3 linked regions of the Homo sapiens genome follow. The protein of the gene in region 1 interacts with the protein of each later gene in a pairwise test. Each region holds a gene or a part of one and is shown in the gene's direction. Other genes may lie near its edges.

The links. Proteins that work in one complex are often made in the same cells at the same time.
Region 2: the proteins of ETS2 (region 1) and SERPINE2 interact in a two-hybrid assay, tested with the Homo sapiens proteins (one large-scale study listed by BioGRID and IntAct).
Region 3: the proteins of ETS2 (region 1) and DMXL2 interact in a two-hybrid assay, tested with the Homo sapiens proteins (one large-scale study listed by BioGRID and IntAct).

The regions. Positions count from the first base shown.
Region 1 is NC_000021.9:38,822,929-38,825,455, forward strand, and holds the end of ETS2 (protein C-ets-2), read left to right. Parts: 3' UTR 1-2,027; downstream 2,028-2,527. UniProt on the Homo sapiens protein: Transcription factor activating transcription. Binds specifically the DNA GGAA/T core motif (Ets-binding site or EBS) in gene promoters and stimulates transcription.
Region 2 is NC_000002.12:223,983,787-223,987,286, reverse strand, and holds part of SERPINE2 (glia-derived nexin isoform b precursor), read left to right. Parts: intron 1-2,336; coding exon 2,337-2,535; intron 2,536-3,500. UniProt on the Homo sapiens protein: Serine protease inhibitor with activity toward thrombin, trypsin, and urokinase. Promotes neurite extension by inhibiting thrombin. Binds heparin.
Region 3 is NC_000015.10:51,616,272-51,619,771, reverse strand, and holds part of DMXL2 (dmX-like protein 2), read left to right. Parts: intron 1-3,500. UniProt on the Homo sapiens protein: May serve as a scaffold protein for MADD and RAB3GA on synaptic vesicles. Plays a role in the brain as a key controller of neuronal and endocrine homeostatic processes.

The DNA.
Region 1 (2,527 bases):
ACTGAGTGGGAAGCCCATCCTGACCAGCTGCTCCGAGGACCCAGGAAAGGCAGGATTGAAAATGTCCAGGAAAGTGGCCAAGAAGCAGTGGCCTTATTGCATCCCAAACCACGCCTCTTGACCAGGCTGCCTCCCTTGTGGCAGCAACGGCACAGCTAATTCTACTCACAGTGCTTTTAAGTGAAAATGGTCGAGAAAGAGGCACCAGGAAGCCGTCCTGGCGCCTGGCAGTCCGTGGGACGGGATGGTTCTGGCTGTTTGAGATTCTCAAAGGAGCGAGCATGTCGTGGACACACACAGACTATTTTTAGATTTTCTTTTGCCTTTTGCAACCAGGAACAGCAAATGCAAAAACTCTTTGAGAGGGTAGGAGGGTGGGAAGGAAACAACCATGTCATTTCAGAAGTTAGTTTGTATATATTATTATAATCTTATAATTGTTCTCAGAATCCCTTAACAGTTGTATTTAACAGAAATTGTATATTGTAATTTAAAATAATTATATAACTGTATTTGAAATAAGAATTCAGACATCTGAGGTTTTATTTCATTTTTCAATAGCACATATGGAATTTTGCAAAGATTTAATCTGCCAAGGGCCGACTAAGAGAAGTTGTAAAGTATGTATTATTTACATTTAATAGACTTACAGGGATAAGGCCTGTGGGGGGTAATCCCTGCTTTTTGTGTTTTTTTGTTTGTTTGTTTGTTTGTTTTTGGGGGGTTTTCTTGCCTTGGTTGTCTGGCAAGGACTTTGTACATTTGGGAGTTTTTATGAGAAACTTAAATGTTATTATCTGGGCTTATATCTGGCCTCTGCTTTCTCCTTTAATTGTAAAGTAAAAGCTATAAAGCAGTATTTTTCTTGACAAATGGCATATGTTTTCCACTTCTTTGCATGCGTTTAAGTCAGTTTATACACAAAATGGATTTTATTTTTTAGTTTAACTGTGTTTCTCCGACAGCTCACCTCTCTCTGACCACCCAGCCATTTCCTTCCTGTGCTCCACGTTCTTCTGTGTGATTAAAATAAGAATATTATTTTTGGAAATATGCAACTCCTTTTCAGAGATCAGGAGGGATTTATGTAGCAGCTATTTTTACTGCAAAAGTAATTCACTGGAAAAAAAATGTAATTTGTAAGAAAGCTTTATTTTTATCTCAGCTCTATGTAAAGTTAAAGTTACTGTACAGAGCTGAAGGACGGGGGGCGGTAGGGGTCTTGATGAAACCTCTTGAACGAAGCACAGTTTGTCCCATCTTTGTTCACTCGTGTGTCTCAACCATCTTAATAGCATGCTGCTCCTTTTTGCTCAGTGTCCACAGCAAGATGACGTGATTCTTATTTTCTTGGACACAGACTATTCTGAGGCACAGAGCGGGGACTTAAGATGGGAAAGAGAAAGCATCGGAGCCATTCATTCGGAGAAAACGTTTTGATCAAAATGGAGACTTTTGTAGTCGTTTCAAAAGAGCACCTGAGTCATGTGTATTCCCGGCCTTTATAAATGACCCGGTCAAGTTGGTTTCAAAGTCCGACAGGCTTGTCTGTTTACTAGCTGCGTGGCCTTGGACGGGTGGCTGACATCTGTAAAGAATCCTCCTGTGATGAAACTGAGGAATCGGGTGGCCGGGCAAGCTGGGAAGAGCAAAGCCAGAGCTGCGCTGCCTCAATACCCACAAAAGACCATTCCCAGTATACATAAGCACAGGATGTTTTTCTCAAGAGGGATGTATTTATCACTTGGACATCTGTTTATAATATAAACAGACATGTGACTGGGAACATCTTGCTGCCAAAAGAATCCTAGGCAGTGGCTCATTGTATGTGAGGTTGAACCACGTGAAATTGCCAATATTAGGCTGGCTTTTATCTACAAAGAAGGAGTTTCATGGGGTTCAGCCTAACAGTTATGGAAACTACAGTCCTTATAAACCATTGGCATGGTAATAAACAGATCTTAAGTATAAAAATTTTGTAATTGGGCCTTTACTCTCTCAATAATAAAGTATTTTGTTTATATAAATTCTTTGTGATAGTCCTCGTTCTTCCTCTCCACACCCAGCATGAAGGAGTTGGAGGAAGGATGTTAACCCCAGATCCATTCTCTACTCAAAACATTCCATCATCAAGCGGCAAGTCTCTGTTTAACTGGTTTATACACAAGTCACTTAGAAACCACAACCCAAATTGGAATCAACTTTGAGCCCTTCCTAAAAGAATTCCCAAAAAGTGCTCTCTTTCAAAACAAAAAATTCTTTTAAGAAAGTGTTATAATAGAAAGATTCAAATGTCTTTCTTTGCCAGAAGCTTGGCAGAGATAACAGAGGAGAGATTCTGGAATGTTTATATTAAGTACATTAGAATTTGAGGTTTAAGTACTTTTGGAACTGAGGCCACAACACTCTGTCCCCTCAGTGGAGTCTGACATTGGTAAGGTGATGGTGGTCTTAGGACACCTGTTTTCAAATTTGTTCTCTTTACATGCTCCAAAATTAGTGAGTATGCCAAAAAGCTTATATTCAT
Region 2 (3,500 bases), on another chromosome or scaffold:
AAGAAGTGAGGTATTTTACAAAGCTTCTTACATCAAAAGACGGCAGTTTTTGCTATGGGCCAGCTTATGCTGAGCACTTTGTATGTGTTGTCTCAATGAATTTTCATAGCTCTGTAAAGTAGGTGCTATTATTGTAGGCTTTTACAGATAAAGAAACTAAGACTTGGAGTCAAGGAACTTGCCAAAGTCTCAGAGCTAGTGTGCTACAAGTGCAGGATTTGAATACAGGTCTTATAACCCCAGATCTCGTGGCTTTGGCACGTGTCCTCTATAAAAGGATGCAGTACTTGAGTGACCAGGTAGAAAGACAGAAAAGGTGTTATTTTATCTCCCAGCTCCTCAAGGCACCAAATAAAGGTAAGCATGCGTATGTCTGATGCACCCTGGCTACCACTGGTCATCAGCTTCTGTGGTCAGAAGCAGAAGGAGTGGGGGGAAATCAGTCATCAAGCAGAGGTGACTGGATGCGGTTCATGGTTATTAATATTACTGATCAGTTAATAATGGGTCCAGCCAAGGATGGATTAACTGGTGAAGCTAGATGATCTCTCTCCTCCCTTGAACACATTCCAGCTCATAACTTTTCATTATTCATTACTTCAATCCTCCTTAACAGAAATAGTAAACATTTCTAGAAGCAGTTAACACCTCCAGGTCCTTATTTCATGCCCTGGAGCAATCACTTATTAACCACTTCCCATATTTCACAGTTTCTGAAAATTAGCTCCGCCAGAATAGAGATTTAATGTTTTCTTCAAGGATTAAAGAGCTCATTAGGAAGTGATTTTTTTCTCACTTTCCCATTGATTTTTCCGTTTCTGCTGAGACCATTTTGTTATGCAGGCTAAGAGTAAAGACGAAGAATCCTCTCTTTCATTCTTAGGTTGCCGCAAGACAGAAGCCAGGCTTGGGTGAGAGTTCAACACACATGGGAGCTGAGGCGAGCTGCACCCGGGTTACTGAACAGCCCTGCAGGAAATGCAGTGTGCTAGGACCAGGAGAGCCCCAGTTCCTCTGCCAGTTCTCTATGTTGTTTCTTCCTTAGGGAAAAACTGTAGTGTCATCCTGTGGTGCCATATATTCTAATAACCTCAGTATTTTTATGATATTTCAGTGTTCATCAAGTACACTCTCTTTCCCTCTCTTGGTATCTTTCTCTTCATCTCTCCCTCTGTCCATCCCTCCCAACCCTGTTCTATGGAGAACTGGCATATTGAAGTTCCCTGTCTCAAAGGCAGTGATTGGCACATGTCATCTCCAAAGAAAAGATCAGTGAAAATCGTGCAAGAAACTTGCTTTCTCTCTTCTTGTTTGCTGAACTCCCTAAGATGTGGAATCTGTTTTGTCTATAGAGCATCTTGCAGGTAGACTGTTCTCCAAATAACATTTGAGAAATGCTGGCTTAAATTATTCTTGGGTTTTCATTAGTAAGTAGAAGTACCATAAAGTATCTAAAACTCCAGTGGTGATTACTGGAATGGGTGAAGAGTGAATAGGGCAGGGTGGTGAAGTAGGAGGAAGACAATCCTTGGCATTAGACTCTCCTGGCTCCTCACTTCTTAGCCGTGCATCCTTTGGAGGTTACTTCATTTCTCTAAAGGTGGCTTTCTCAACTGCAAAATAGCACTGCTTACGCCTACCCCGTGAGGTGCTGTAGATCCTCAGCCTGTTGAAGGGTTGATATGGGCCTGGCACAGAGTGAGCCCTGTGGATGCTCTGTATCCCTGTCTCTCTTCACCTGCACATGTAGGCTTATCCAAAATGAGGACTAGAGGTAATAAAATTGCACCATGTTGGGATTCCTGCTCAATGAGTAAATTTTAGCCGCTCTTGTCCCAAAAACAGCAAAATGGGTAATTATGTGAGATAATGGATATGTTAATTTGCTTTTTCATAGTAACTATTTTACTATCTATATGTATCCCATAACGTCATATTGTGTACCTTAATATACACAATACACTTTATTTAAAAAAAAAAAAAAAAGGAATGATTCTAAGGCAGCTTGAATGTATTCTTTTATTCATGTGAGGGTCAACTTCTTGCAAAGCACTGAATTTTAAGCACTTTGTGATTTAGTTAAATTCTCCTTAACAGAATTAAAGTGATTTCAGTGATTCCCAAAGGCATTCTGTCTAGACTGAAGAAAGGAGAATTCTTCACTGGGGAAGGAAGAAATAATTGTCCTTGTCTTTGTCCTTCTAAGGAAGCTATTTGTGGAAAAGGGAAGTTCTCCAACTGAGTTGCTCTCTGAAGCTATCCCGGTGACCAGCAAGCACTCATCCTGCTTCTAGAAGTCAACAAGGATACACTGAACCTGCTTCTGATTTCTTTAGGGTCGACAAGTGCCCCCAATGATTTATGGTACAACTTCATTGAACTGCCCTACCACGGGGAAAGCATCAGCATGCTGATTGCACTGCCGACTGAGAGCTCCACTCCGCTGTCTGCCATCATCCCACACATCAGCACCAAGACCATAGACAGCTGGATGAGCATCATGGTGCCCAAGAGGGTGCAGGTGATCCTGCCCAAGTAAGTGGCCCCTTCCCCTCAAAGAAAACAGTGGCATTATTCAATCAGCAGGTGTTATGTCGGACACCAGACAACATGAGGCGAAAATATGGCACATCATGAAGCCTGTTCTGTTCTGCAGAAATTTCATGGTGGGATTACGAGGCCGTGCTTTTCTAAACGCTTTTATTCAATGCCTGTGCTTCCTGTATGGTAAGATATGGATCATAAGAAAGGAGAGAGGGCAACCTTGGTCTCTAAACCTCCACATGAGCATAAGCAGTTCATGGTACTGCAGGGGCTTTTTGACATATCTCATTGTATTTAAAAGACTGAAAACACACGTGTGTCATCATAGTATGGATGAAAGTACAGTGAGGTTTAATAGAACTCCATGTGCTTTCATAAGGAGCTTCATTTTAGTTATTTATTTATTTAACTAGAAGTTCATGAAGACCAAGGCAGCCAGTTTTTCTATTATACCCTAAGAGTAAGACAAAGATGGAATTTGAGCTGTTATGACTTGAAGCCATGGGAAAAGTAACCCCAAATCCTGTATGAATCTTCATGTTCTAACAGGTCAGAGAATGCTTTGTCCAGAACTGTGAAGAAGCAATGAATGTTGTTCCCTTTCTATGAACTTTTCAACATTGCTGCCTTCCCACCATCCAGAGCTTTTAACAACCCAGGTCTTGGTGGTAGTGGAGAGTTCTAATAGCTTTTGATTCTTTGGTCACCGAGTTAAGTAATCAGAGTAAGACATTCACAATAAGTATTACTAATTCTCTCAAGATTTTTTTTTTTTGTAAAATAAGCCTTCAAGTAGGCAATGCTTGATATAAATAAATAAATAAGATGGTGGCATCGTAGGCCTCAATGGGTGAAGAACAGGTTCTTTACCATTATAGCCCATCTGTGGTGAGAATCTGCCCACGTCTCCTTAGTGCTCTTCCACAGGATGAGATCAAATCTGATAAAGCATCCTC
Region 3 (3,500 bases), on another chromosome or scaffold:
CTTGCAACTAACTCATGATTCTTAGCTGATGTTGTGTTTCATGGTAGCCTGAGAACCTTTTCAAAATACAATACATACTTTATTTCAGAGTCTAAAATTGATACATCTTTGAAGAACAGAATTGTTCTAAAAGGATTTTGAGTTTATGACAGTGTAATAATTGAAAGAAATGTGTGTTATATATTTTGCTGTGCATGGTGGGTGGCGTGATTGGTTGGCTGTGAATGACTACTTGATGTCGTGATGTCCCAATTTGTGCAATATTGACATGGTACTGCAGTCTGTAGTGGACAATCTCAGCTGATGTCTGTGGTTTTAGTGGTATCACGTAAGCTATGATGCTTTTCACTTGTGTTTAGGCAGTATACAGCTGTTTCCTTAAACATTCGATTGTGATTTCGTAAATGTAGCTGTAGATATCACATTTTAAAACATCACCTTTTGAACAATTTTGTTCTTTTCAGTGTAAGATCTAGGTTTTCGAAATGTTATCCTGCAATAAGTCAAATCTCTGGTAGTTCAAAGAGATGATCTTCTCCCGTGTATGAGCTTTATTATACTTTATTTTGCCTTTAAGACATTTCTTACTACCCTTCAGTGAATGTTTTGAGGGTTTATGCAACAGATATTGTAAATTTCTCATTATTTATGTTATTACTTTTCTGAAAGATAGTCCTTGGCTATTTTTTAAACTTTACTGCACATATTAAAATATTAATTGAAATAATGATCATACGTGATGATTTTTTAAATTAAAAATTCATTTGGCCTTAAGGCTTGCAGACTATTTTGAGATGTATAGGGGCAGTTACTATTATTCCAGTGTGACATGATTTCAACACATTGATCAAAGTTTACAAAAATTAGTAAGTCATTTGCACTCTTAGGGAATTTATAATATACTGGCAGAGATTAAAATGATTTATATAATTATAACATAAGGCAGATGGAAGAGATTGTAGTTGGGAAAACAAGAAGAGGTTTTATGGAAGAGTAAGGTTTGGAAAGATAAGAACAACAGAAGCAAAGGAATGGCATAATACGAAGGATAAATTATTGAGTGACTGTTTTCTTTGCAAAAGTTACTTTTTAATCACAGGACTTCTTCATTAAATAACAGACACTCTTAGAATGTTGAAAAAATATAATATGCAAACATTACCTGTAGCTTTTCAGGAAAACGTACCTGGTATTCTGACATTCAATTTTTTTTTTAAATTAAAATACCAACAAAAGGTTGGAAATAAATGGAAAACCATTCATTTAAAAATTAGAAAATAATGTTGTATAACCTCTTTTATGGCATTTAGATATGTCTTAACTCTATTGTAGAATAAAATTTCAGTCCTAGAGTTATGGTAACACCAAACCTTGAAAATGATCAACCAGTTTATACATTTAGCAAATGTTGAACACATAGGTGTGCTAAGCTTTGTGGGTATTAAAAAAAAAAAAAAAGAATTACAAGACATAGTCTTGATTTCAGGGAGTTTATTGAAGAAGTGTAGGAACCTGGTAGTCTAATACGAGAGTAAAAGACACATACCTAACCACAGTAGGCCAGCTGTGCAATATTACCAGCATTTAAGTGGGAATTCAGGAAGACTAAGAGAACTTTTGGCCAGGGGAATCAAGGGGTTGGTTAGAAACATGCTTCTGTACTGGCTGGTTATTAATGTGTTAACCTGTGCTGAGAGGAAAGTGAAAGACAGAAGTCAAGAATTTAGAATGGACTTGTTTTCTAAGAGAAATTGGCCTTTTTGTTCTTGGAGTGTAGCTTCTTGTTTGTTTAAACGGATACATTTAAAACCTTGTGGGCTTGGGCTTAGTGTCAACCAGTAAGTGAATATAGGGTTTATAAGTTCTTATGTCCCTGCGTAGATTGTTAATTAGCCTTCTTGCTTGTAGCAAGAAGACTCCTAGCAACTACTCAGAAACTCTGGTAAGGTTCTGAATAATGTCTTCCCCAAAAATGGGAGGTCAGAGACCAACTACTTGTATGGTGTTGGTGAAATCACTTAAACATGTTTAGGTCTTTGATCTGTAAAAGAAGTTCTTAAAGATATTCTTTAAGTATTTAGACCACGAATGAAAATTATATGGACTTCTCTAGAGATTTTCAGGGGTCAAAAGAGAAAATGGACTAGAAACATAAAGTGGTTGTGTTGAAGTTGTAGGTCTGGAGTCTTTATCGTATATTGCTTCTCACTTGTATTTACAAGACTTGATCAGATCTCACTTGTATTTACAAGATTTGATCAGACCTCACAGTCGGGGAGTCTGACCTCCTTTCTGGCTCAGTAGATAGGCCATTCAGAGCATTTATGAAGTAGTGGGTCTAGGAATGAGTCTTTGGGCTTACAGCTGAGGAGAAGCCTCTTGATTAGGTTTTGGTCCTTGGCACCTGGCAGATGATAGTTGCCTGCGACTGTCATAGTACAGTATTGGGTGGGAGATGGGACCAGTGTGATGGTGTTTAGGTTCTCCTTTCGCAGCTTTCCTTTTCCCGTGCAATGCCTTTATTTTAGTTTCTGTTCTTAGGATTTGGGCTATTTAAAATATTACTTTAGAAATTATAATCAGATTATCTTAACTTGGATCTTGGTAAATTTTTAGAACAAATCAGAGTCTCAGTATTTAATTATCTGAAAGAGCACAGGATGTTGGGTGACAACCATAATGGCACAGTAGAAAAACAAGTCATGCCTGACCAATTTAATTTCCTTCTGTGAAACCAAGGCAGTACTTAAAATGGGATATAATATAGAATATCTAAAATTCAGATTTAGTCAGACTTCTCTAGCTTGTCAGTTTTTTTTTTTTTTTTTTTTTTTTTAGATGGAGTCTCACTCTGTCACCCAGGCTGGAGTGCAGTGGTGCAACCTCTGCTCACCACAACCTCCATCTCCTAGGTTCAAGCGATTCTCCTGCCTCAGCCTCCTGAGTAGCTGGAATTACAGGTGCGTGCCACCATGCCAGGCTAATTTTTGTATTTTTAGTAGAGACAGGATTTCACGATGTTGGCCAGGCTGGCTTGAACTCTTGACCTCAAGTGATCCTCCTGCCTCAGCCTCCCAAGGTATTGGGATTATAGGCATGAGCCACTGCACCCGGCCATTTGTCAGTAATTTTTTAAAACAAATTTGGAAGCCAAATATTTCAGTAGAAGTTTTAGGGTTTTCAGTCCTTTCGAGTTTGTAGAATCCTTTTGCATTATGTTAGTGCTCTGAAACCCTGATCCATGATGTAACTTGGTATTGAGGGACAAGTACATCTTAACAAAGGTGACATGACTATATTCACTCTCTCTTAAAGATAGCTCATGTAATCCTGGAATTTGATGTAAATATGAAACCAGTTGCCTGCACTTCTTATTTTTGTGTGTGTGGGTTTTTGTTTTCTTAAATTTCTTTTTTTTTCGTTTGCCTGCAAGTTTTACTCTCAAATCCTCTCATTTCATGATTCCTGAGGCTTCCTTTAATGCTATCTACCCCTAGTCC